7 linked regions of the Homo sapiens genome follow. The protein of the gene in region 5 interacts with the protein of the main gene of each other region in a pairwise test. Each region holds a gene or a part of one and is shown on either strand. Other genes may lie near its edges.

What was found.
Region 1: the proteins of NBPF19 (region 5) and BCAM interact in a two-hybrid assay, tested with the Homo sapiens proteins (one large-scale study listed by BioGRID).
Region 2: the proteins of NBPF19 (region 5) and DGKQ interact in a two-hybrid assay, tested with the Homo sapiens proteins (one large-scale study listed by BioGRID).
Region 3: the proteins of NBPF19 (region 5) and CTNNBIP1 interact in a two-hybrid assay, tested with the Homo sapiens proteins (one large-scale study listed by BioGRID).
Region 4: the proteins of NBPF19 (region 5) and CRY2 interact in a two-hybrid assay, tested with the Homo sapiens proteins (one large-scale study listed by BioGRID).
Region 6: the proteins of NBPF19 (region 5) and TAPBPL interact in a two-hybrid assay, tested with the Homo sapiens proteins (one large-scale study listed by BioGRID).
Region 7: the proteins of NBPF19 (region 5) and PTK7 interact in a two-hybrid assay, tested with the Homo sapiens proteins (one large-scale study listed by BioGRID).

The regions. Positions count from the first base shown.
Region 1 is NC_000019.10:44,812,103-44,815,602, forward strand, and holds part of BCAM (basal cell adhesion molecule isoform 1 precursor), read left to right. Parts: intron 1-60; coding exon 61-289; intron 290-375; coding exon 376-446; intron 447-1,147; coding exon 1,148-1,244; intron 1,245-1,335; coding exon 1,336-1,518; intron 1,519-2,049; coding exon 2,050-2,186; intron 2,187-2,501; coding exon 2,502-2,658; intron 2,659-3,500. UniProt on the Homo sapiens protein: Transmembrane glycoprotein that functions as both a receptor and an adhesion molecule playing a crucial role in cell adhesion, motility, migration and invasion.
Region 2 is NC_000004.12:970,770-974,989, forward strand, and holds the start of DGKQ (diacylglycerol kinase theta), read right to left. Parts: upstream 2,801-4,220; 5' UTR 2,714-2,800; coding exon 2,443-2,713; intron 304-2,442; coding exon 224-303; intron 1-223. UniProt on the Homo sapiens protein: Diacylglycerol kinase that converts diacylglycerol/DAG into phosphatidic acid/phosphatidate/PA and regulates the respective levels of these two bioactive lipids.
Region 3 is NC_000001.11:9,903,770-9,907,269, reverse strand, and holds part of CTNNBIP1 (beta-catenin-interacting protein 1), read left to right. Parts: intron 1-3,500. UniProt on the Homo sapiens protein: Prevents the interaction between CTNNB1 and TCF family members, and acts as a negative regulator of the Wnt signaling pathway.
Region 4 is NC_000011.10:45,878,475-45,881,109, reverse strand, and holds part of CRY2 (cryptochrome-2), read right to left. Parts: intron 197-2,635; 3' UTR 1-196. UniProt on the Homo sapiens protein: Transcriptional repressor which forms a core component of the circadian clock.
Region 5 is NC_000001.11:149,499,045-149,502,544, reverse strand, and holds part of NBPF19 (NBPF family member NBPF19), read right to left. Parts: intron 3,473-3,500; coding exon 3,300-3,472; intron 2,591-3,299; coding exon 2,539-2,590; intron 1,889-2,538; coding exon 1,716-1,888; intron 1,002-1,715; coding exon 893-1,001; intron 260-892; coding exon 87-259; intron 1-86.
Region 6 is NC_000012.12:6,458,542-6,462,041, reverse strand, and holds part of TAPBPL (tapasin-related protein isoform 1 precursor), read right to left. Parts: intron 3,398-3,500; coding exon 3,095-3,397; intron 1,188-3,094; coding exon 1,104-1,187; intron 919-1,103; exon of another isoform or gene 652-918; intron 9-651; coding exon 1-8. UniProt on the Homo sapiens protein: Component of the antigen processing and presentation pathway, which binds to MHC class I coupled with beta2-microglobulin/B2M. Association between TAPBPR and MHC class I occurs in the absence of a functional peptide-loading complex (PLC).
Region 7 is NC_000006.12:43,135,314-43,138,813, reverse strand, and holds part of PTK7 (inactive tyrosine-protein kinase 7 isoform a precursor), read right to left. Parts: intron 1-3,500. UniProt on the Homo sapiens protein: Inactive tyrosine kinase involved in Wnt signaling pathway. Component of both the non-canonical (also known as the Wnt/planar cell polarity signaling) and the canonical Wnt signaling pathway.

The sequences.
Region 1 (3,500 bases), on a different chromosome or scaffold from region 5:
GAGAGAGAGACTGAGGAGCGCTGGGACACCCGGAGCTGAGAGCCTGCCCCGCGCCCACAGACCGACCGCTCGGGAGCTCGCCCCCGCCTAGCCTCGGCTGAGATGCAGGGCTCTGAGCTCCAGGTCACAATGCACGACACCCGGGGCCGCAGTCCCCCATACCAGCTGGACTCCCAGGGGCGCCTGGTGCTGGCTGAGGCCCAGGTGGGCGACGAGCGAGACTACGTGTGCGTGGTGAGGGCAGGGGCGGCAGGCACTGCTGAGGCCACTGCGCGGCTCAACGTGTTTGGTAAGTGTCCTCGGGCATCCCCCGAAGGGAGGCAGGCAGGGAGGGGCGCAGGGCAGGGGCTCCTGACGTGAACGTCTTTTTCACAGCAAAGCCAGAGGCCACTGAGGTCTCCCCCAACAAAGGGACACTGTCTGTGATGGAGGACTCTGCCCAGGAGGTACCTCTCGGGTGGACCTTGGCCCCAGGGTCCTGGAGGAGGAGGGGACAGGGCCCTGGACTCCTGGGTCTGAGGGAGGAGGGGCTGGGGACCCCTGGGTAATAAAGGAGGAGGGGTAAGGCCAGGCGAGGTGGCTCATGCCTGTAATCCCAGCATTTTGGGAGGCAGAGGCAGGCGGATCACCTGAGGTCAGGAGTTCCAGACCAGCCTGGCCAACATAATGAAACCCCGTCTCTACTAAAGATACAAAAATTAGCTGGGTGTGTTGGTGTGCAACTGTAATCCCAGCTGCTCGGGAGGCTGAGACAGGAGAATCACTCGAACCCAGAAGGCAGAGGCTACAGTGAGCTAAGATCACACCACTGCACTCCAGCCTGGGCCACAGAGCAATACTCCGTCTCAAAAAAAAAAAAAAAAAGAAGAAGAAAAGAAAAAAGAAAGGAAGGGCAGAGGGGGAAGACTCCTGTGTCCTAGGAAGGAGAGAGCTGGGGGACCCAGAATCCTTGGTCCCTGGAGGATGGTGCTGGAGGCCTGGACTCTTTAGTCTGAGTCGGGGACTAGGAATTTGGACTCCTGGGTCCTGGGAGAGTCGGGAGTTAGGAGCCCGGCTCATGAGTCTGAGTGGGGAGAACTCCTGAGAGAGGAGCCCCGACTTCAGAGTCCCAGCTCCAAGCCCAGGGCCATGCCCGTGTCTGCCTCAGATCGCCACCTGCAACAGCCGGAACGGGAACCCGGCCCCCAAGATCACGTGGTATCGCAACGGGCAGCGCCTGGAGGTGCCCGTAGAGATGAACCCAGGTGAGCAGCGCAGGAGCGCGGCGGGACGTGGGCTGGGGTGGGTGGCGGGGCTATGGCCTGGCTGACTGCCACCTCCCCCGATCTCTCCCAGAGGGCTACATGACCAGCCGCACGGTCCGGGAGGCCTCGGGCCTGCTCTCCCTCACCAGCACCCTCTACCTGCGGCTCCGCAAGGATGACCGAGACGCCAGCTTCCACTGCGCCGCCCACTACAGCCTGCCCGAGGGCCGCCACGGCCGCCTGGACAGCCCCACCTTCCACCTCACCCTGCACTGTGAGTCTGTGCTGGCCTTTGACCTCTGACCTCAGGCTCCACACCTCATGAGGCCTGACCCTCCACCCGGGGGCTTCACACTCCCCTCTGACCCTCTGCCTCCCTACTTCATGCTAAAAAAAAATGTGCTAGTGCTGGCCACTGACCTCTGACCTCAATTGGTCGCACAAGCCCCATCCTGACCTCTGACCTCCGACCTCCACTTAGCACCCTGGACCCCATGAAGTTTATGACTAAATGGTGCTTTCCACCTTCTCACACTGAATTGGGTCCCCCCATGACATCTGGCTCCAAGTCTCACACTGACCCATCGCCCATACGGACCTCTGACTCTTGACCTATACTCTTAGTTTATTTCAACCTCTGAACTCTGGCACTCAGAATAATTGTGAACCTGAGGCTTGAAACCTATGACCCGTAACCTTTGACCCGCCATAGCCCTCACCTGGGATGCAGGGCTGACCTCTCGCCTGTCCTCTAGCCTTGACCCTTCCCCTGATCACAATTCCCATCTCCCTGCCCTTCCCTTAGATCCCACGGAGCACGTGCAGTTCTGGGTGGGCAGCCCGTCCACCCCAGCAGGCTGGGTACGCGAGGGTGACACTGTCCAGCTGCTCTGCCGGGGGGACGGCAGCCCCAGCCCGGAGTATACGCTTTTCCGCCTTCAGGTGACCCACCCAAGGGTCCCTCTGGGATCCACCCCCCAGCCCCTGACCTCTGTGACCTGCTAACCTGCATAACTTCTAATGTGGGACCTGGGAGTCCCCATGGCTTAGGCAGCCACCTGATCTGGTGGCCCACGAACTAAAAGGACCTCTGACCCCTGATTTGAGAGAGTCAGGACTTAGCATGCCACCTGACTTGATGGCCCCTGACCCCTGATTCTGGCTTAGCATGACACTAACCTGGTGGCTTCTGACCTAGCATGAGCCCGCTGAACCGGGGTGGCTTCTGAGCCTGGTTCCTCGTCCCCCGTCTCCCAGGATGAGCAGGAGGAAGTGCTGAATGTGAATCTCGAGGGGAACTTGACCCTGGAGGGAGTGACCCGGGGCCAGAGCGGGACCTATGGCTGCAGAGTGGAGGATTACGACGCGGCAGATGACGTGCAGCTCTCCAAGACGCTGGAGCTGCGCGTGGCCTGTGAGAGCCCTGGGTGAACGGGCGGGCAGGAGGGGCCCTGGCATCAGTGCCTCTGCGCCCTCCTCCCTACAGCCCTGAAGTTGCTCTGTCATCCCAAACACTCTGCCTTCAACCCTTTCTCTGCATTTCTTGGGGGTTTTTTTGGTTGTTTTTTTTTTTTTTTTTTTCCCAGAGACAGGACCTGGCTACGTTGCCCAGGCTGGTCTCGAACTCCTCATGCGATCCTCCTGCCTTGCTCTCCCAAAGTGCTGGGATTACAGGAGTGAGCCACCGCATCTTGTCGAGAGCTCTTTCCATAGCACAGACCTGACCCTCCTCTGCTCAGAATCTGCCATGGCTCCCCAGTACCCTTGGGAGAAGCCCAGGTGTCTCACCATGGCCTTCAAGGTCCACCTGGCCAGTTCCACCATTAGCTAGCTGATCCTTCTCCCCAGTCAAGGCTATCTCCTCATCACCCCCCAGGCTCCTCTGGTTCCTACCTTCACTGCCCATCCTTCCTACCGTCTATTTCTCACCAATCCCTTGAATCCCAGGCTTCTAAGAATGATTTTCAGTTCATTCGCATCCAGGCCCTGGGGAAAGGCTGTATTCTCCCTTGGCACTTCTTACATATCCCTTCCTGGGGTAGACCCTGCGCCAGATGCTGGGGACACATCTGTGAACAAGACAGACCACCCCTGTTATTTCAGTAGGGGAGACAGATGGTAAATGCTAACTAAGCCCTTTCGTAACAGTAGTGTATCTACAGGTGATATCACCAGTGAGAGAGAGCAGGAGAGGGGATTATTTTAGGTGGCAGGTGTTGCAGTCTGCTTTCCTGAGAAGCAGATTCTGACTTGGAT
Region 2 (4,220 bases), on a different chromosome or scaffold from region 5:
AGGATCTTGCTATTTGCGACCTCGGGGACTGGCTTTTATCACCATCATTCCCTGCAGATCCATGCAGGGTGCTCAGCCTTTTAATCCCGAGCAGTATCTGCCCTTTGCCTTTCAACTGCAGGTATCACTAACGTCTGACATGAAGGTTTTCAGTGCCTCGACCCTACGAGAGCTGACACATCCCCCAGCCTCTTGCAGGTGCAACACCCAGCCCCACACTCACCCGGACCAGGCTGGGTGCCACACTCGTGCACGGGATCCTCACGTGCTTCAGGCACTTCTCATGAGACATGAAATTGCAGACTGTGGGAATGAGCACTGTGTGAGTTGGCCCCTGTCCTACCCAATGGCTGTCCTACCCAGGAAGTTAGAGGCCCCAGGGCAATGACTGCCATACCCACCATGCTGCACCAGGGGCCCTGTGGTCCTCGAGTTCCCCCACCACCCTGCCCACTCATTGGAGAGAGCCTGCAGCCCAGGAGCCCAGGAGCAAGAACCTGGGTGGTCCTGACCATCCTGGAGGACAATGAGTGTATCCTCTCATCCAGAGAGCAGTCCCTCCCCTTCGCACGTAGGCCCAGCACTCCTCCTGCCTCTGCAGTTGGGCCTCTCAAGGGGCAGCCCTGGGCTCACCAGGTTCGCCAGGTGGCAGGGGCTTCTCGGCCTTCGGCAGATTGGCTTTACCAAGGACATCTGTGTCTCACTCCCCCGAAACTACGCATACCCCTAATTGTCCCTGCTACGTGCTGTGCACCGTGCCTGAGACCGAGAGCCACCCAAGGCAGGTGAGGGCTCTGGGAGGCAGGAGCCGCTGGGGAGTGGACAGCCCCAAGCCTCCCAAGGAGCTCTGGCTGTGTGCATAGGACCCAGGGAGCACCTGAGCCGGCGGGGTGCTCAGGAGGGCATAAGAGGAGCAAGCGCCACACCCCAGCAGTAAAACAGACAGGAGGGTGGGGCCGGGGCAGAAGGGAGGGCAGGAACCCTGGGCTGGGGCAAAGGCTGCGGGGGCTGGGAGTGGGCAGGGCACCCAGTGACACAACTGCCAAGACAGCCCCGGGTGAAGGTTGTGCCACGGAGCCCCAGGCAGTCCAGCTGGGACAGGGAGCTCTTCCAGAAGGCCCCGCTGGTGCCGCCCTTCACCTGCTGCAGCCCTAGCCACCCCAGTCTCCAGATGGGACCGGGAGAAGCTTCTCCTGGCAGCTTAAGAGAAAAGCTCTGGAAGCAGGCCAGGGTCCACCGAGAGAAGGGGGGACAGGCAGCACCCAGGTCCCTCCTCTGCCATGGAGACAGGGCCTGCTCACCCCACGCCCCACGCTTGGGTCTCCTGGCGGGGAGGGTGCCCTCCTTCCCATACCGCTGCTGGCCCCTCTTCCACGGGTGCTGCCCAGGAGGGCCCTTTTGCCCCCTCCGAAGGGGGAGGGGACCCGGAGTCTGGCCTCAAGTCGGGAGCTGCCTCAGCCACACATGCACACTCCCCACCTCTGGGGAAGCCCCTGGCATCCCCAGGCAGCAGGCATGGCTGTGCCATGCTCTGACGTGACAAAGAAGCTGGCGGGCCAGGCCACCTTGTGCAGCCCTGGGGGTCAGAACAACCATGCCGTTTCCACCACAGACGACATCCCCGTGTGAGGGGACAGTCTCCTCTGCGGACCCTGACCTGAGTGGACCCCTATCCCCAGAGAAAGGCCTGAGGCTAAGGATAGCCCCTCCCACCTCAGCGTCCCTGGCCAGGACACAGTAAGTGTCAAACGTCCAGAACTCCGGTCCTGTCCCTCGCTCCCTCCAGAGGCTGGGCTGTGGTCCCCCTGTCCCTCGCTCCCTCCAGAGGCTGGGCTGTGGTCCCCCTGTCCCTCGCTCCCTCCAGAGGCTGGGCTGTAGTCCCCGGGGCCCGCCTGCTTGCCGCGGGGGAAGATGAGAGCCAGCCCTGGGAGCACCCGGGCCCAGAACAGGGAAGGGCTGTCCTCACCCCAGCAAGAGCTGGGCAGCTGGGTGGAGCAGGGCTGGGACACGCGCACCGGGACGGCAGGGCCCGGCCTGGCTCTCCAGGAGGCTGGGACTCTGGGCCACAGCATGAGAAGGGCTAGGGCCAGGGGCCCAGGCCAGCCCTGCTTAGCCACACCTGCTGCCCCAGCCACTGGGAGAGGAAGCCGGCCATGGGGACCCCAGCTGAGGTCCCGCTCGCATCAGGCACAGCCCCTGGGTCGCAGCCATCGCGCGGCACTATGGAGATGCTGTCCGCACCTCCCAGGTGAGGAAGCCCGCAGCCTGGAGCGGCCCCACGGCGCACAGGCCCCGGCCGCCCCACGAAGGCACGTCCCGCGAGCAGGGCTGGGACCCCGCCCTCCACTCCCCCGAAAGCGCCGGTGCCACCTCCGCTCAGGCTCCCGCCCACGGGGCAGAGGCAGGGCTGCAGCCGGGTAGGCATCGGGCCCGGGCGCTCACCGTCGCACAGGAAGCCGGCCAGCCCCCAGATGAAGTCGGAGCAGAGGTGGCAGAAGGTGGGCTTGGTGAGCGTCACCTTCCGGAAGCTGTGTCCCGGCGCGGCAGCGGGGCCCGGGGCTCTGACGCCCGCCCGCTCGGGTCCCGGCCCCGGCCCCGGCCCCGGGCGCGCGCGGCCTCCTGAGCCCAGCACGGGGCTGCAGGCCGGGCTGCCGGGGCGCGGGGAGCCGCCGCCCAGCCAGGCGCGGGCCCCGGGCTCGGCCGCCGCCGCCATTCCCGGCCCGAGCGGCCCGAGCCCCTTTAGGTCCGCGCCGGGGGTACAGGAGCCGCCGCTCCACGGCCCGGTACACTGCTTCCGACTGCGCCTGCCCCACTGCGCAGGCGCGGGCCGCGGGGCGGGGCGGGGCGCTGCTGGTGGGCGGATCTGGGGGCTGGCGGGGCGGGGCCTGCTAAGGGTCGCAGCCGTGCCCCGTCGATGAGCGGGGCTGGGGGCGGGCCCTGTGATCGGGCGGGGCGGGGCCTGCTAAGGGGCGGGGCCTGTGCGCGGAGGCCGCTCGCGAACCAGCCGTGGGGAACTGGTCCACGTGGGCTCGGTTTGACCGCAGCCGGGCCAGACTTCTCCGGACGCCGCACGCGCGGCGTTGTACCTGCGGGGTCCCGGCCCGCGGCTGCGCAGACAGGCGCCTCCCACGCGAGACGCGGATGCTGTCCGAGGCCCCCGGCCGCGCAGGACGCCCCCGGCGAGGGGCAGCGCTGCGGGCCTCCCACAGTGGGTCCCGGAAAGCGGGGTTTGCGGTGCTTGGGCGGCTCCGTCCGTGGGGTCTTCGCACGCGCAGACTTGGCCCTGCCCGAGGCCCAGGACCCCCGGCGCCCGACCGCTGTCCTCACTGCAACGGGGGACCCGCCTGCGGCCCGGGGCTGTCCGCTCGCGACCCCCACCCGGGCCTCACGCCGAGCGCCCAGCTCTCCTGCCTCGTGCGCGCCACGGGTCTTGTTCAGGTGGCGCTGGTGTCCTTTGAGAGCCGCGTCCACGCGGGTCACCCCTCCCCGCCGCTGGCAGCAGTCTGGGTCCTTGCCCCCGTGGGCCTAACTGTGGATAGGAGTCTGCGAAGCGGGGGACCCCACCCCGGGCCACCGAGCGGGGACCTGCAGAGGGCAGGGCTCCAGGGCCATCGCAGCAGGCGGTCTCAGGGGGCAGGAAGAGCAGGGAAGGGCCTGTGGGGAGACGCCTGAAAGGGGCTGGGGGCTGTGGACTCTGGAGGGAAGGAGCCGGGAGACCTGTCCTAGGGGCTGTGCTGGTGAGGGCACCCAGACCACAGGGGATTCCAGGAATGGAGGGTGAGCCGGGGACCCAGTCTGAGGAGGGAGGAGCAGGCCCCTGAGATGGTGAGGGGGGAGACGCAGTCCTCAACCAGGGAGGATTCTGTTTGTCCAGAAGCTGCTGGTTGAGCTGCTGGGGTAGGACCCTGGGTGGACCCCAGGGTAAAGGGAATGCAGCCAAAGCTTCAGGGAACCTTCACCCTCCAGGAGCTGCGCTCTGGGACAGACAGCACCCTGAAGAATGAGGGCTGCCTGGGGGCAGCAGGAAGGCGTCCAGGCGGAAAGCCGGAGCAGAGGCCCTGTGGCAGGGTGCTCCGCAGAAATCCTTTCCTGATGCCCACCTATGCTGGGAGGCCCGGAGTCACCACCCCTGCATTCCCTGTCTCCTGTGCCAGACCCCACCCCGAGCCTGCCCTCAGCCAGGCCCCAAGACCCCCTGTGCCTGGGCCCTGGGAGAGCTA
Region 3 (3,500 bases), about 140 Mb from region 5:
GAACCAGGGAGGTGGAGGTTGCAGTGAGCCAAGATCGTGCCACTGCACTCCAGCCTGGGCGACGGAGGAAGACTCTGTCTCAAAAACAAAAAACAAAAAAACTCCCCAAAAAACAGAATAAAACTTATCTCCATGCTGCTCCAAATCTGTGCTGTCAGAACATGTCAGAATGAGAGGACCTTGGGGGTTACACAGGCCAGCCCCTTCTTTTATGGTTAAGCGTCTGTGTCCCCTAGAAGCTGGCTCTTTTGAAATCTTATAGCAGTTTATGCATTTTCTTATGATGCCTGCTAGTTTCTACCCCATTTCATCTCCATGTGTACACATGTGACTCTAAGCTTTCTGAGGCCAGAATCTCTACTGGGTTTGTCTTTGCATCGTCCACAGTGTCTGAATCAGCGCCCTGCACAAAATGTAAACTCTTCAAATATTGGTTGACTTGCCTGGGCATCTCATCGCACCAAGACTCCTGCCCCTGCCCCTGTCTTTTCATCAGACCATGCTTCTTGTAGACTCCTCATCCAGGGTGCAATATAGTGTAAACCCAGCAGTGTCTTGTTCACAGGGCTCACATGACAGGGCAGCCCTTCCTTGATGGATCTGCTCTCTCCATCCTTGCCTGTGGGGAACAGCTGCTGCTGGTGCTGACCAAGTAGTCACTTGACACTCAGCAAATATGAAGTGTAGCTCTTTATTATTATTTTTTTTTTTAGATGGAGTTTTGCTCTTGTTGCCCAGGCTGGAGTGCAATAGCACAATCTTGGCTCACTGCAACCCTCTGCCTCCTGGGTTCAAACGATTCTCCTGCCTCAGCCTCCCAAGTAACTGGGATTACAGGCGTGTGCCACCACGTCTGGCTAATTTTTGTATTTTTAGTAGAGATGGGGTTTCACCATGTTGGTCAGGCTGGTCTCGAACTCCTGACCTCAGGCGATCCACCCACCTCGGCCTCCTAAAGTGTTGGGATTACAGGCGTGAGCCACCGTGCCTGGCCTGAAGTGTAGCTCTTAATTAGACCATGGACTTTGTACCAAGACCATCAGGTTTGGATCTTGGTTCTGCCTTCAGGAGCTGCATGATCTTCAGCAGGTAACTTAATCTCTCTGTGTCTCAGTTTCCCCATATGCACAATAGTAATACTTTCCTCATGGAGTTGTTGGGAGGATTAAATTAAGTAATACCTAGTAGATACTCAGAAGACCACCTAGCACTTGGTATATGCTAAATTGAAGTAACCATTATTTCGCCTTTTTTTATCTGCTTCTTAGCTCCCACCAGCATTTAAGCTCTTTGAGAGCAGAGATTTTTGTCTCTTTTTGTCTACTCTTATAATATAGTACCTAAACTTTGTAGTACTCTGAAAATATTTGTTGAATTGAATGACTGATTGAGCACCTATGTGCTAGGCACTGTTGCGGATGCTATGGACGTAGCCAAGAACACGGTCTTTAAGAGGCATGCTCTTATGAAGTTTATCTTCTAGTGGGAGAGACAGATAGTAAACAAATAAACGAGTCAACAAAAGAATGTAGGGTGGTGAGGCCGGGCGCGGTGGTTCACGCTTGTAATCCCAGCACTTTGGGAGGCCGAGGCGGGTGGATCACCAGGTCAGGAGATCGAGACCATCCTGGGTAACATGGTGAAACCCCGTCTCTACTAAAAATACAAAAAAAAAAAAAATTAGCCGGGCATGGGGGCGGGCGCCTGTAGTCCCAGCTACTCAGGAGGCTGAGGCAGGAGAATGGCGTGAACCCGGGAGGCGGAGCTTGCAGTGAGCCAAGATCGTGCCACTGCCCTCCAGCCTGGGCGACTAAGCAAGACTCTGTCTCAAAAAAAAAAAGAATGTAGGGTGGTGAAAGAGATACGGGGGAAAATAAAACAGAAGATAGAAAGTGGATGGGACGAGGGTTAGGGTCATAACTTTAGCTCTGAGAAGGTGGCTTTTGGGAGACATGGATGGTGATCTAGGGGGACAGCTTTGTGGACAGAGAGGACTGCAAGAATGATCAACCCAGAGGGGCTGGAGTGTGGTTAGTGATGAATCAGCAGGGGCCAAATTTGTGGCTGTGGTTAGGAGTTTGGATTTTACTTTTGAATTCTGAACAGTGGGAAGTCACTGCATGGGAACTTTTCCTGGGGTCTAGGAGAATATTTGAGTCCACACTAAAAGACAGAACAGGACATTACGAAGAGCGGCTGGAATAGGCTCTCCTTGTCCTGGGAGGTTTTTGAGGCCAGCCAGAGTATTGAGTTTCTTCCCATCAGGTTCCTTATTTCTCTGGCCTGGTCCCCTGAAGATGAGGGAAGCATCAGCTAGGTTGATGACAGTCCTGGTATGTGTGTCTGTGTGTCCTGCATTTTATTGAGCTTCCTTTTTTCCGAGTCCCTAAGTCATCAGCAAACATTTCTTGAGTTGAATGAATGAATGTTGCCAGTGCTTAGCAGCTTGTCGTCTACAGTGGAATGTCTGTGTTCTCTGCTCCTCTCTGTGTGAGTTAAAGCTTCTTATCTTGGCAGTGACTCTTAAGTAGTCTTGGAGTTTTGCAGCCATTCTTCATAAATGCATCAGCGACACACATACATGTATATCACTGTTTCTTTGTTGAGAGTATACCAAGATTGACTGGACAGCTTTCCTACCCCCACCCTATCCCTACTTCTCTGCCAGTCCCTGCCATCACCAGGCCCCTCTATAGAGGGTTGGGCCACACTGGCAACTCTGACCATCTCCTGTTTGATTACTTGATCAGGAACACAGTGGTATCTAGAAAGCATTGGTTGTCTTTCATCTGGGCTGAGCGGAGTTGGGTAACTCAGCAGAGCGCTGAGAGAAATGGCATTTCAAACCCAGGGGCTCCACTCACCAGGAATCCAGAGTGGGACTCTTTAGACTGGGTGCCATTGGCCAGCTTTTCAGATCCCTTTTTGGTCCTCCCATCAGTTGTCCACGATGCCACTTGCTCTGCTAACCTGGAGAGACCAACACAAGTTAGTGGGAATCAAATAGGACGCTTGTGTTGCAGGTCACTTTCAGAGTCCTGGGGCATTTTATTGGCAGAATCTGAAATGCCTGCTAGTCATATGTCATCTGTAGATTTGTAAAAACTAAACGCAGAGTGGGTGCAAGCTTTTTCTCATGTAGCTGGTTTTCTTACTATGAGAATGATACGTGCTCATTTAGAAAATGAGAAAGTGAATGATAGTGGCATTTTACATACACTGTCTCATTTCATCCTCACGGTTTCTGAGATACGTACCATTATTACCATTTTGTATGTTAAGAAGCTGAGGCCTAGAAAAGTTAAGTAAAGTGTTTGAGGTCGAGCTAGTTGGGAACAGAATCAGATTCAAACCAGGCAGTATGACTCCCAGGCAGAGCTCTGAGCACCATGTCATATACTGATTCTCAGCAGAAACCATAGAGAAGAAAGAAAAGCCTCCCTTAAGCCCAATGTAGGTGATACTCTTAGGGTAGTCAGAGTTAACTTGCTGGCTGCTCC
Region 4 (2,635 bases), on a different chromosome or scaffold from region 5:
ACATTCAGAATCATGAGTGTCAACAGATGCATGCACACACAAACAGGCACACCACTCCCTCCTCTGCACACGCGCACACACACACACATGCTCGCTCTATCTCTGCCCGGTGATCAGCTTCTCTGCAGGTTGTACTCTGCTGCTGCGGTGGCTGCTTGGGCACCCAGGCTTTGCTCACGGAGCAAGGGCTCTGCAGCTGGAAGAGAAAAACAAGTGCAAAAGGAGCATTCAGGAGGCTGCTCAGTTGCCCAGGGACACAAGCTCCTCTGGCTGCTTCTCTGGGGACATTCAGAGCGGGACCTGAGAAGAGCTGAAAGAGTGAGCTGAAAGGGCCACGGTACCTGGGGACAGGTTGTTGCTGGGATGCCACTGGGATGAGGGAATACTGCCCCTCTGAGGTGCTGATGCAGGACAAGCTCCCCACTGCAGGCCCTCCACCCAGGGCTGCGGACAGCAGAGGAGGAGGAGGACAAGGCTATGTGAGAGTCACGTGAAGCCCTGGGGGATACTTGCTCAGATATGACAAGGGCAGCTTCTGAATCAAGGCACAGCAGCTGCTGCCAGAGATGGAGAATCAGGAAAAAATGGCTGGAAGAGAAGCCCGCTGGGACCAGTAATTTTGAAGAGTAAGGCAATGACTGAGTTTACAATCAGCAGGTGAGCACATTTCCACATATAGATGAAAGCACCCTGGCACAGTGCTGGAAGATTGTGGGGGCAGGAGGGAGAGAGGAGACACAAGGATGACTCATTTTAAAGATTTATGACATCCGGAATCTGGGGCAAAGAGAAGAAACAGCTTCATCCCTGATAATAAAGGAAGGACAGAGTGCGCCTGTCACAATGCTGAGTTGTCTGTTTAAATAGGTTTAGTGTGTCTGGGAGTCTACAGAGACACACAGCGTCCCATTAAAAGTTTGTGCAGTTTAAATGTGGGTGAGGTAGACAATAAGTAGGCTTACTAAGCCTGCCGTGGGTCAGGTACTATACACTTGTGCTGTGGCTGAATTCTGTCCCCCACAAAATTCTTATGTTGAAGTCCTAACCCCCAGTACCCCAGAAGGTGACTGTATTTGGAGACAGGGTCTTTAAAGAGGTAATTAAGTTAAATGAGGTCATTAGTGTGGGCCCTAATCCAATATGACTGGTGTCCTTAAAGGAAGAGGAAATTTAGACCCAGACAGTACAGAGGGAAGACCATGTGAAGACATAGGGAGAAGATGGCTGTTTATAAGCCACAGAGAGGAGCCTCAGAAGAAAAGAAGCCAACCCTGGCAACATTTTGATCTTAGACTTCCAGCCTCCAGAACAGTGAGAGGACACATTTCTCTTGATTAAGCCACCCAGTCTGTGGTACTTTGTCATGGCAGCCTGAGCAGACTAACACAACTTGAGATCCCAGTAACCTTGAAGCTTGCCCTCCATTTTTGTAGATGAGAAAACAGAAACCAGAGAGGAGAAGGAACTTGCCCAGGACAACAGCATTCATAAGTGGCAGAGCCAAAAAAGGAAATCCACATCTGTCTGATTCTCAAATCTGTCTTTTTACTAGCAAGTAATCTCTATACGATAGTATTGCTCATTAAGACTTTTAGAGAAGAAGACTTTTAGAAGAAATTCAACATGGCAGCATGAAGACTAATATCCAACAGACATACATGTGAATTAAGCTGTTATTAGAAAAGGGAAAATGCTCTTAAAGTCAAAGACATTGGAGACAAGGATTCAGTATCATGCGATGCTTTTAAGGCCGCATGGTAAATCTGAAGCAGATTTTATCTGATGATAATTTATCTGGAAGCTGGGCAAAATAAAGAGCAGACATAAGAGTGGGTGCCTGTATAGGTCAGTACTGTGTGTCTTATTCTTTTTTTTTTTTTGAGACAGAGTTTCACTCTTAGTGCCCAGGCTGGAGTGCAATGGAGTGATCTTGGCTCACTGCAACTTCTGCCTCCCAGGTTCAAGCGATTCTCCTGCCTCAGCCTCCTGAGTAGCTGGGATTACAGGCATGTGCCACCACACCTGGCTAATTTTGTATTTTTAGTAGAGATGGGGTTTCTCCATGTTGGTCAGGCTGGTCTCTAACTCCTGACCTCAGGTGATCCACCCACTTCAGCCTCCCAAAGTGCTGGGATTACAGGAGTGAGCCACCGAGCCCGACTTTTTTTTTTTTTTTTTTTTTTTTTTTTAATAGATGGAGTCTTGTTCTGTTGCCCAGGCTAGAGTGCAGTGGCGCGATCTTGGCTCACTGCAACTTCTGCCTCCTGGGTTCAAGCAATTCTCCTGCCTTGGCCTCCCAAGTGGCTGGGATTACAGACACCTGCCACCACAACTAATTTTTGTACTTTTAGTAGAGATGGGGTTTCACCATGTTGCCCAGGCTGGTCTTGAACTCCTGATCTCAGGTGATCCGCCCCCCTCAGCCTCCCAAAGTGCTGGGATTACAGGCGTAAGCCACCGCACCTGGCTGTGTGTTTTATTCTTTAAAATGTGTGTTATTTTCAATAATTTTTCCCTTTAAGCTTGTACTATAATAACCTAGCCATTTTTTTGCTACAAATGTATGTATTATTAAGGTGTACATGTATTTATTGAAATGTGCTGATTCTGAGTATATACTCCACACACAGGGCTC
Region 5 (3,500 bases):
GCTCAGTAAGGGCCACTTGCAGTAGGAATATGACCCTAACCAGAAGACTCAGTGGATCCTTATCACCTTCATAGAAAGGTACTCACCATCCATGTCAACAGCCAAGCCAACACACTGTTGCTCCAATATGTAAAAGGCACTTCTGTAGGGCTGGCATGAGTCAGTCAGTTCAAGACAACCTGAAGGAGTTGAATAACATCTATCCAGTGAGTCCTGCAAGACTTCAGGCCCTTTCTCATCCAGCAGCTCCCTGCTGAGCCTGGAAAAGTGGGAAAAAGTAAAGAATAAGCCAGGGGGAATCAGAAACCGCACAGCCCCAGCTAGATTTCATGGCTAACGTTAAGGAAGAGTTTGAAAAGAAAAAGGACAGATCCATTAATGAGGTAACAAATTATTGCCTTTATGTTGGGATAGAACAGGGCCAGGTAGAAAACAATGAAAGAGAAAGACAGAGAGAGAGAGAGAGAGAGACAGAGACAGAGAGAGAGACAGAGACAGAGACAGAGAGAAAGTGACCTAGTGAATTGGCCAGGTGACATACTGGTAAGGGAGTAAAAGGACACTCTGAGTTAGTGCCCTCATGACACACAGCAAACTGTGATCATGAAAAGAGTGAGCTCAATAGTTTTCCATAAAATATGCTCAAAATTCGATGCAGTGGCCATGAGAGTACAGCTTTTGAAGTATGGTCAACCTATGGTACGTTAGGAAATGATAAGGGGAGGAAGAAATGGAAACCTAAACATCTACTGCAATGAAAACCAACAGCAATGACAGTAGGAGTAATTCAGCCTTCGTTGAAAACATGACATCAAACACACTCTGGTTTCCCTGAATCTGTTGCCTCCAGGTGTTAACACAGAATTAAGCATCCACAATTGCTGAAAGTCACCTGGGGCATGGTGGGTTTTGATCTTCTTCCCCTTCTTTTCTTCCCCTTCTTCTTTCCTTCTTTGATCTTCTTCCCCTTCTTTTCTTCCCCTTCCCCTTCTTTTCAATTTCTGCAATAAATTCAGACATGGACAGACACATTAAGCTGATTCCCCTACACACATAACAATCCACTGTCTAATCCTCACACAGGGACCTCAGGCTCCTCAGCATAAGAATAGGACACTGTGAGAGATATATTTCAGGAGGCCTGAAGGCTGGTCATGATAGAAATTCCTCGGTTTTTCTCCCAGAAACTGTGGGTAAAATGTCCCTATTCTAGTAGATCGTTATCCCAATATCATTTGTCCCAAGTTTGTGCAAACAGTTATGCCATATTTTTCCAATCAATTTAAAGCAAATACCCTCAAATGATTTCTAGGAGAAAAACTGCAATATTTAGCCCTGTCTCATCAAATACTCAGATTGTTCATGGTTGTGAGGACTTTAGACACTGAAATTAGAGTGAAAAAGGAAATCTACAAACCCTTGAGTCAAAATCATAGTTCTCTGAATTTGTCACATCTGCCCAGGTCCAATGTCATGAGAATAGGATCAGGGCGCCACAGGTATGGCCTGAGACTAGGAAGAGAGTCTTGCTCACTGACCCATCCCTTGTCTGGGCTTCCAGGTAGAACTAGAGTTTCATTCAACCTACATGTGCCTATAGGTCCTCACTGCGGCAACGACATCTCTCAGCTCAGTAATGGCCACTTGGAGCAGGAATATGATCTTTATATGGAAGACTCAGTGGATGCTTATCACCTTCATAGAAAGGTACTCACCTCCCACGTCAAGAGAAAAGCCAACATGTTTTTCCTCCAATGCATAAAAGGAACTTCCATAGGGCTGGCAGGAGTCAGGCTGTTCAAGACAACTGGAAGGAGTTGAATAACATCTATCCAGTGAGTCCTGCAAGACTTCAGGCTCTACTACCTCCACCAGCTCCCTGCTGAGCCTGGAAAAGGAGGAAAAAGTAAAGAATAAGCCAGGGGAAATCACACACAACAGAGCCCCAACTAGGTTTCATGGGTAGCATAGGGAAGTGGTTAAGAAAGTAAAAGGATAGATCCATTAATGAGGTAACAAATTATTGCCTTCATGTTGGGACAGAACAGGGCCAAATGGAAAAGAATGAAAGAGAAAGACAGATGGACACACACACACACACACACACACGCACACACACACACACACACACACAGAGAGAGAGAGAGAGAACGAGCTCAGTGAATTGTCCAGGTGACACACTGATGAGGGAGTAACAGGACACTCTGAGTTAGTGCCCTCAGGACACACAGCATACAGTGATCATGAAAAGACTGTGCTCAATAATTTTCCATAAAATGTGCTCAAGTTTCCATGCAGTCGCCATGAGAATACAGTTTTTGAAGTCTGGTCCACCTACAGTAGGTTAGTAAATGATAAGGGGAGGAAGAAATGGAAACCTAAATATCTACTGCAATGAAAACCAACAGCAATGTTAGTAGGAATAATTCAGGCTTGCTTGAAAAGATGTAATCGATAATGTCAGCCCGCTCTGTTTTCCCTGAACCAGGAGTCTCCAGATGTCAACACAGAAGTAGCTGTTCACAATTGCTCAGTTACCTGGGGCATGGTGGGTCTTGGTCTTCTTCCTCTTCTTGGTCCTTTTTAATTCCTGCAATACATTCAGACAGGGACAGACAAAATAAGCCAATTCACCTACACCCATAACAGTCCACTGTCTAATCCCCACACAGGGATCTCAGGCTCCTCAGCATGAGAACAGGACAATGTGAGAGATATACTTCAGGAGGCCTGAAAGCTGGTCATGATATTCTTTGGTTTGCATCTCAGAACCAAGGGTGAAATATCCCCATTCTGGTAGATCGTTATCCCAAAATCACTTATCCCAAGTTTGTGCAAACAGTTATGCCTTATTGTTCCCATCAGTTCAAAGAAAATGCCCCAGATGATTTCTAGGAGGAAAACTGCAGTATTCAGCCCTGTCTCATCAAATGCCCAGCTCGTTCATGGATGCAAGAATTTTAGACACTGAAATTAGAATGAAGGAGGAAATCTACAAACCCTTGAGTCCAAATCATAGTTCTGTGAATTTTTTGCATCTGCCTGGGTCCAATGTGCTGAGAGCGGGCTCAGGTTGCCACAGGCATGGCTGGAGACTAGGAATAGAGCCTTGCTCACTGACCCATTTCATGTCTAGGCTTCCAACTGAGACTACAGTTTCATTACAACCTATATGCGCCCACAGGTCCTGCCTGCGGCAATGACATCTCTCGGGTCAGTAAGGGCCACTTGGAACAGGAATATCACCCCTATCTGGAAGACCAGGTGGAGGCTTATCACCTTCATAGTAAGGTACTCACTGTCCACGTCAAGAGCCAAGCCAAGGTACTGTTCCTCCAATGAGTAAACAGCACTGCTGTAGGGCTGGCCTAAGTCAGGCAGTTCAAGATAACCTGAAGGAATCGAATAACATCTATCCAGTGAGTCCTGCAAGACTTCAGGCTCTTTCTCATCCAGCAGCTCCCTGCTGAGCCTGGAAAAGTAGGAAAAAGTAAAGAATA
Region 6 (3,500 bases), on a different chromosome or scaffold from region 5:
TGTAGGTGCTGGTAAGAGGAAGTGAAGACAGGAAGTTGCGTGGGCATCTCACACTGGCAAACAAGCACAGGTTCCCTCAGGCCTCTTCCATCTGCCTCCTGTGCTCCTTCCTAGGTCCTTGGCCTGCTTGTCCTGTCCCAGGGGATGTGCCCAGATAAGGCTGTCAGTGAACACCCCCTTACCCCCTTTTCCCCATCATCCTCACGTACAGTTTTGGTATGCTGAGTTCCACCGTATTGATTAGGCACATTTTAGAAACGAATAAAAAGGAGAAGTCTCTCCTTGCAGCTGAGGGAGTGAGGCATTTGCAGGTATCCTGAACCTCCCAGCAGTCACCCGAGGGAGCAGAACCCTAATTGCAGCTGAGGTGCAACTGAGATGGAGCCACGGGGGTGCCTCTGAGGGCCTTTGTTTCATACTTAAACACTTTGCAAGTTGGAGCCGCTAGGCTTGGTGACAGGGCTCAGTTGGGACCAGTGTGGAGAAAGACAGGAAAGTGGAAAAGCTTGGTCGCAGCAGACACAAGGGCCTTTTATTTTGACAGAGCTGAGTTTGGGAGGGGTAGCCCAGCCCCAACCCATGCCTCATTGTCCCTCACTTGTTCCTTCTCCATTTCCTCCAGCTTTGTTTTCCTACCGTCACACCACCAACCTGGCTCTTTGGTCTTATCCTCCATCTGGACATTCTGCCTTCTTCTTGTCCCCTCACTTCTTCCTGTTCTCTGCCTTGGTGCATGAGCCCAGGGTGCACAGTGAAGGAAGGCAGAGGCCTCTGCAGAGCCAGGCCCAGTGCCCCATGAGCTGGTGCCACCTTCATGTATTTTTAGCTCTGTGACTTGACTTAGAGTCCTTCTGGGAGCACGTGACTACTCTTTCTTTCTACTCTGAGGCAGGAGAGTGACAGACTTTAGTGAGGTAGCTAGGAGAAAACGAGGGAACACGACTGGTTTCATTTTCATTTAGGGCAAACTCAAAAGCAGGAGGCTGTGATGGGTGGGTGGCTGGAGCTTGGGGCATCTGGGCTTCCACCCTGGTCTGGGCGGGGGGGTGGTTAGAGTGGGTGAGGTGGGCCAGGGCCAGAGCCAAGGGCACCCAGGCTCTTACCTTGCCGTCTCTGAAGCCCCAGGAACATCAGTGCAAGAAGGAAGAGACTGCTGGCAAAGATGACTCCCAAGGCTGTTCTCCGCTCTGTAGGTGAGAGCAACGTGGGCGGGGATCATCGTGCGCAGGAATCATGAGCTGAGCCCTCACCTGCAGTGTCCACCCCAGGGAGGAGGAGCTAAGGATTGTGTGTGTGAGTCCCTGGTTGAGGAGCCTGGAACAAGGCACTCAGCAGCATTTGTTCTTATTCAAGGTTGCTGGATACTTGTGAGTTACTCCACACAGAATTCTCTACCTCTTCCCACCTAAGGACAAGGTTTTAAAAATTGCTTTGCAAGTGAGATTTAGGTGGGTTTATTTGTTAGCACTTAACTTGCCTGGACACAGTGGCTCATGCCTGTAATCCCAGAACTTTGGGAGGCTGAGGTAGGTGGATCACCTGAGGTCAGGAGTTCGAGACCAGCCTGGGCAACATGGTGAAACCCTGTCTGTACAAAAAATACAAAAAATTAACTGGGCATGTTGGTGTGCGCCTGTGGTCCCAGGTACTTGGGAGGCTGAGGTGGGAGAATCACTTGAGCCTGGGAGGCAGAGTTTGCAGTGAGCTGAGATCGTGCCACTGCACTCCAGCCTGGGCGACAGAGTGAGACCCTATCTCAAAACAAAACAAAATAAAACAAAGCAAAACAAAAAACCACCAGTTAACTGGGATTTTGTAAATAGTTGGGGAATGATGTGAGCTGAAGTGAAACCTCAGTTTTGGGGAAGTTCACAGTCTAATGAGCAACCAAATAATGCCCAGTGCTCCTGGATGTTTCCACTTCAAGTTGCGGGTTCTTTCCTGTCCCTTTCCTGCTTAAAACCTCTCGACAGGCAGGGTGCGGTGGCTCATATCTGTAATCCCAGCACTTTGGGAAGCCGAGGCGGACAGATCACCTGAGGTCAGGAGTTTGAGACCAGCCTGGCCATCATGGCGAAACCCCATCTCTACTAAAAACGCAAAATTAGCCAGGCGTGGTGGTGCGCGCCTGTAATCCCAGCTACTTGGGAGGCTGAGGCAAGAGGATGGCTTGAACCCAGGATATGGAGGTTGCAGTGAGCTGAGATCATACCACTGCACTCCAGCCTGGGGAACAGAGCAAGATTCTGTATCGAAAAAAAGTAAAATAAAATAAAATAAATAAATAAATAAATAAATAAATAAATAAATAAATAAAACCTTTCAACAGCATGCTATGGCTCTCAGGAAGTTCCAGCTTGAAGGCCCAGTGAGATCTACAGGGTTTAATTAAGCCCGTAAGGGGAATCCGGTTGCCTGTTTTTCACATTCTCTCTTTACCATTGATTGATAGGTGACCTTGGGCAAATTCATTGACATCTGCAAGTGCCAGTTTACTCACCTGTAAAATGGGAGTCATGATCCATGAAATCATACATTTAAGTGCTTTCTACACTGCTTGATTCATGTAAATGCTCAATAAATAGAATTACCTCCGAAGCTTCAGAGCCACTTTCCCTTTTTCCCATATACCCTAAGCTCTAGCTGTGCTGAATTACTTGCAATTCTCCAAATTCTCTTTAGGCTGTTTTATGATTTGGCTTTCATATATGCTATTGTTTCTATCTTGAGTGTTCCCTTCCCTCTAAGCTAGTTAACTTGGCTCAAATGCCATCTTCTCTGTCTACTTAGTCTTGTCTCTATTACTGGACTAAGCTCCTGGAGGGCATGATCAGGAATTATTCATCTGTGATCTCCAGCCTTAAGCACATTGCCTGACACCCTGGAGGCTGGAGTATAATGAAGTCTCAGGGGATGTGTGGTAGAAGCTGTGGCAGCTGCCGCCTTGGGAAAATAGTCAGGAGCAGAGGCAGGAGCATGAAGCCAGGGCTGCGAACAAAGTGGATGGGCAGCAGAACAAGGCCATAGATGAGCTGGGGCAGGAGAGCCATGAGCCCTAGTGTGGAGGTGGGGAAAAGGAGGACACTCCCAGTACCTGGTGGGACAACCTGGGTGCTGGCCCCAAGGGGCTCCTCCAGAGAGATGTGTGTGACCTGGCAGGTGTAAGTGGCACCTGCAGAGCCAGGTTCTGCGGTGAGAGAGGAGGAGATGCTGTAGGTGCCTGCCACGCTTTGCCTGAGGCTGGAGAAGGAGGCACCAGAGACTTGGGCTGGGGATCCACCCAGCTCCTCTCGGGTCCACGTCACCACCACATCCAGAGGGTAATAGCCAGCAATGTCGCAGATGAGGGTGGGCAGCAGAGCTTCGTTTGCCAAGCTCAGTCGTACTTTAGGGGAAGCTGGAGAAAGAATGAGGAATAAGATTACACATGGATCTAACTGGGGACAGCGGAGGAGCCTGAAGCCTTTTCTTCCTGCCAAGATGAGAGTAGATTGTGGAGG
Region 7 (3,500 bases), on a different chromosome or scaffold from region 5:
CACAGGTCTCCAAAACTAAAGGATCCATCTCCAAGAAATCCTACTACCATTCTAGGCCCTGAGTTCAGAAGCCCCATGCTCCTCAGATGGCAGGAGTTTCCCTTTACGGAAGACCCAGGTGCCAGCACCTTTTTTAAAATTTTTTTTCTTTTAAGACAGGTTCTCACTCTGTCACCCAGGCTGGAGTAGAGTGACACAATTATGGCTCACTACAGTCTCGAACTCATAGGCTCAAGTGATTTTTCCCACCTCAGCCTCCCAAATAGCTGGGACCACAGGCATGCACCACAATACTTGGCTAATTTTTTTATTTTCTGTAGTGATGGGGTCTTGCTATGTTGCCCAGGCTGGTCTCAAACTCCTGGCTTCAAGCCTCCCCAAGTGCTAAGATTACAGGCATGAGCCACCACGCCCGGCCACCAGCACCTTTTGAACATTATCTTAGTTAACTGTCACATTAATTAACTTAGTTAACATTATCTTAGTTATAAGCCCCTATGGTAGGCAGGGAGTGGTGGCTCACACCTGTAATCCCAGCACTTTGGGAGGCCGAGGCGGGAGGGCTGCTGTAAGACACTGCACTCTAGCCTAGGCAACAGAGTGAAACCCCCATCTCTAAAAAAACAAAAAAAACAAACCCCCCAAGGTATGTATTCCAACACGCACTTTACAGCTAAGAAAACAGATGTTCAAAGAAGTAATGGTGGCCAGGCACAGTGGCTCACGCCTGTAATCCCAGCACTTTAAGAGGCAAAGGCGGGCAGATCATTTGAGGTCAGGAGTTCAAAACCAGTCTGGCCAACATAGTGAAACCCCGTCTCTACTAAAAATACAAAAACATTGGCCGGGTGTGGTGGCGGGCACCTGTAATCCCAGCTACTGGGGAGGCTGAGGCACAAGAATCGCTTGAACCTGGGAGGTGGAGGTTGCAGTGAGCCGAGATCACGCCACTGCACTCCAGCCTGGGCGAAAGAGTGAGACTCCATCTCAAATAAAAGATAAAAAATAATAATAACAATAATAAAAAAAGAAGAAGTAATGGTGATTTGCTAATACCTAATAGTGACAGAATTTAAAACTCTGGTCTATATGACTCTGAAACCCTTGTTCTTCTTATTACACCATAAAATGCCAAGGCGCAGTCCTCAGAAATCTGTTCTGTTTTAGCAACACTCACTCATCCAGTCCACAACCTTCAATACAACATGAATGGTTGGTTCCCAAAACTACATCCTGATTCCTATAAATCCAATTGCCTACTGGCATTTCCAACTGGATATCCAACAGGCATCTCAAACTTTACGTGTGCTAAAGAGAACACCTGACTTCCCCCAAAACCTGCTCACTCATTTTCCCTATCTCAGTCAATAGAACTATCTAGTCAGTTAAGAAAGCCAAAAAGCTAGCCTTGTCTTCTCTCTATACCCCACCCCCATCACACTCGTTCTACCAAACCCTATCTACTGGGGCTCCTAAATATATCCTGAATTTGACCACCTCTCACCCCCACCGCTACTGCCTCTGTTCAAGCTCCTTCAGTATCTCCCCTAGACTATTATAGTCATCTACTTAGTATGGGTCTCCTTGTTTATACTCTTGGCCCTAACATTCTAGTCTCAAAACAGCCAGAGCGATCTTCTGAAAAATCAGTCTTCCACTCAAAACCCTGCAAGACCTTCCCATCCAATGTGGTGTGGTAGGCTGCTTGCAATGATAGTTATAAACAATCCTCCCATCCCTTTCAACTCTTTTCAATGTGATGTTGACACTTTCCCATCAAGAGGTAGAGTTTATTTCTTTTTGTGTGTGTGAGACAGGGTCTCATCCTGTTACCTAGGCTGGAGTGCAGTCACGCCACTATGGCTTACTGCAGCCTCAGCGTCCCAGGCTCAAGCAACCCTCTCACCTCAGCCTCCAAAGTGGCTAGGACCACAGGCGCGTACCACCAGGCCCAGCTAATTTTTTTTTTATTTTTAGTAGAGACGGGGTCTGGCCATGTGGTCCAGGCTGGTCTCAAACTCCTAGGCTCAAGCAGTCCTCCCACCTTGGCCTCCTAAAATACTGGGATTGCAGCGTGAGCCACTGAACTGGGTCATGGTGTATTTTTCTAGTCCCTGGAATCTGAGTGGCCTGTGACTTCCCTTGTCCAACAGAACACAGTGGTAGTACTGCAGCTTCCACTTTTGCCCTCTCGGAACCCAGCTGCCAGGTGAGGAAGCCTGGCTAGCCTACTGGAGATGCCATGTGGAGGAGAACTAAGGCACCCTGGTCAATAGCCCCAGTCAACTGCCAGACAGGTGAGTGTGGCCGCCAGGGACCAGGCCAGCTCACCCATCAGCTGACTGCAAACGTGTACACCCAGCCGATAGCACACCAGGTAGACGAGCGGGCCCACCTGAACCTGTCCACAGAATCATAAGCATGTCAACGGCTGTTGTTTGTTGTTTCAAGTCACTACGGTTTGGTTTTTTTTTTTTTTGAGTTGGAGTCTTGCTCTGTCACCCAGGCTGGAGTGCAGTGGCGCGATCTCTGTTCACTGCAACCTCCACCTCCCAGGTTCAAGCGATTCTCCTGCCTCAGCCTCCCAAGTAGCTGGGATTACAGGCATGTGCCACCATGCCTGGATAATTTTTTTTTTTGTATTTTTTATTTTATTTTGAGATAGAGTCTCGCTCTGTCGCCCAGGCTGGAGTGCAGTGGCGCAATCTCGGCTCACTGCAACCTCCGCCTCCTGAGTAGCTGGGATTACAGGCACATGCCACCACACCTGGCTAATTTTTGTATTTTTAGTAGAGACGGGGTTTCAGCACGTTGGTCAGGCTGGTCTCGAATTCCTGACCTCGTGATCCACCTGCCTCGGCCTCCCAAAGTGCTGGGATTACAAGGCGTGAGCCACTGCACCCAGCCATTTTTGTATTTTTAGTAGAGATGGGGTTTCACCATGTTGGCCAGGCTGGTCTCAAACTCCTGACCTCAAGTGATCCACCTGCCTCGGCCTCCCAAAGTGCCACCACGTTTTGAAGTGGTTTGCTATGTAGCAATGGATAACTGATGCCGAAGCCAAAGTCCTTACTATGCTTTTACAAGGCCTATGGGATTTAGTTTCCACCTCTCAGGCAACTTCAACCCCTCTCACCATCGTTTATTCAACTCAAGCCACACAGGCGACTACTGTTCCTCCAACATACAAGCCCATTTCCATCTCAGGGCCTATCACATGGCTGGCTCCCTTCTTAATTTAAATACCAACTCCAATGCACCTTTTACAGAAGTCTTCCCTAAACTCTCACTGGCCCTGCCCTTTCTCTATCACTTGCCCTATTTCATTGTTCTCCCTTGTTCTACTGGCACCTAAAATTATATTTGTTCATTTGATAGTTTTTCTTACTGGCTTTGTCCCCGCTGTTAGAATATGAACTCCACAAGGAGAGGGGCTTCTGCCTGCTTTGTTCACAGTTGCATCCAGTACTGGGAAGAGCTAGCACAAGGTGCTCGACAAA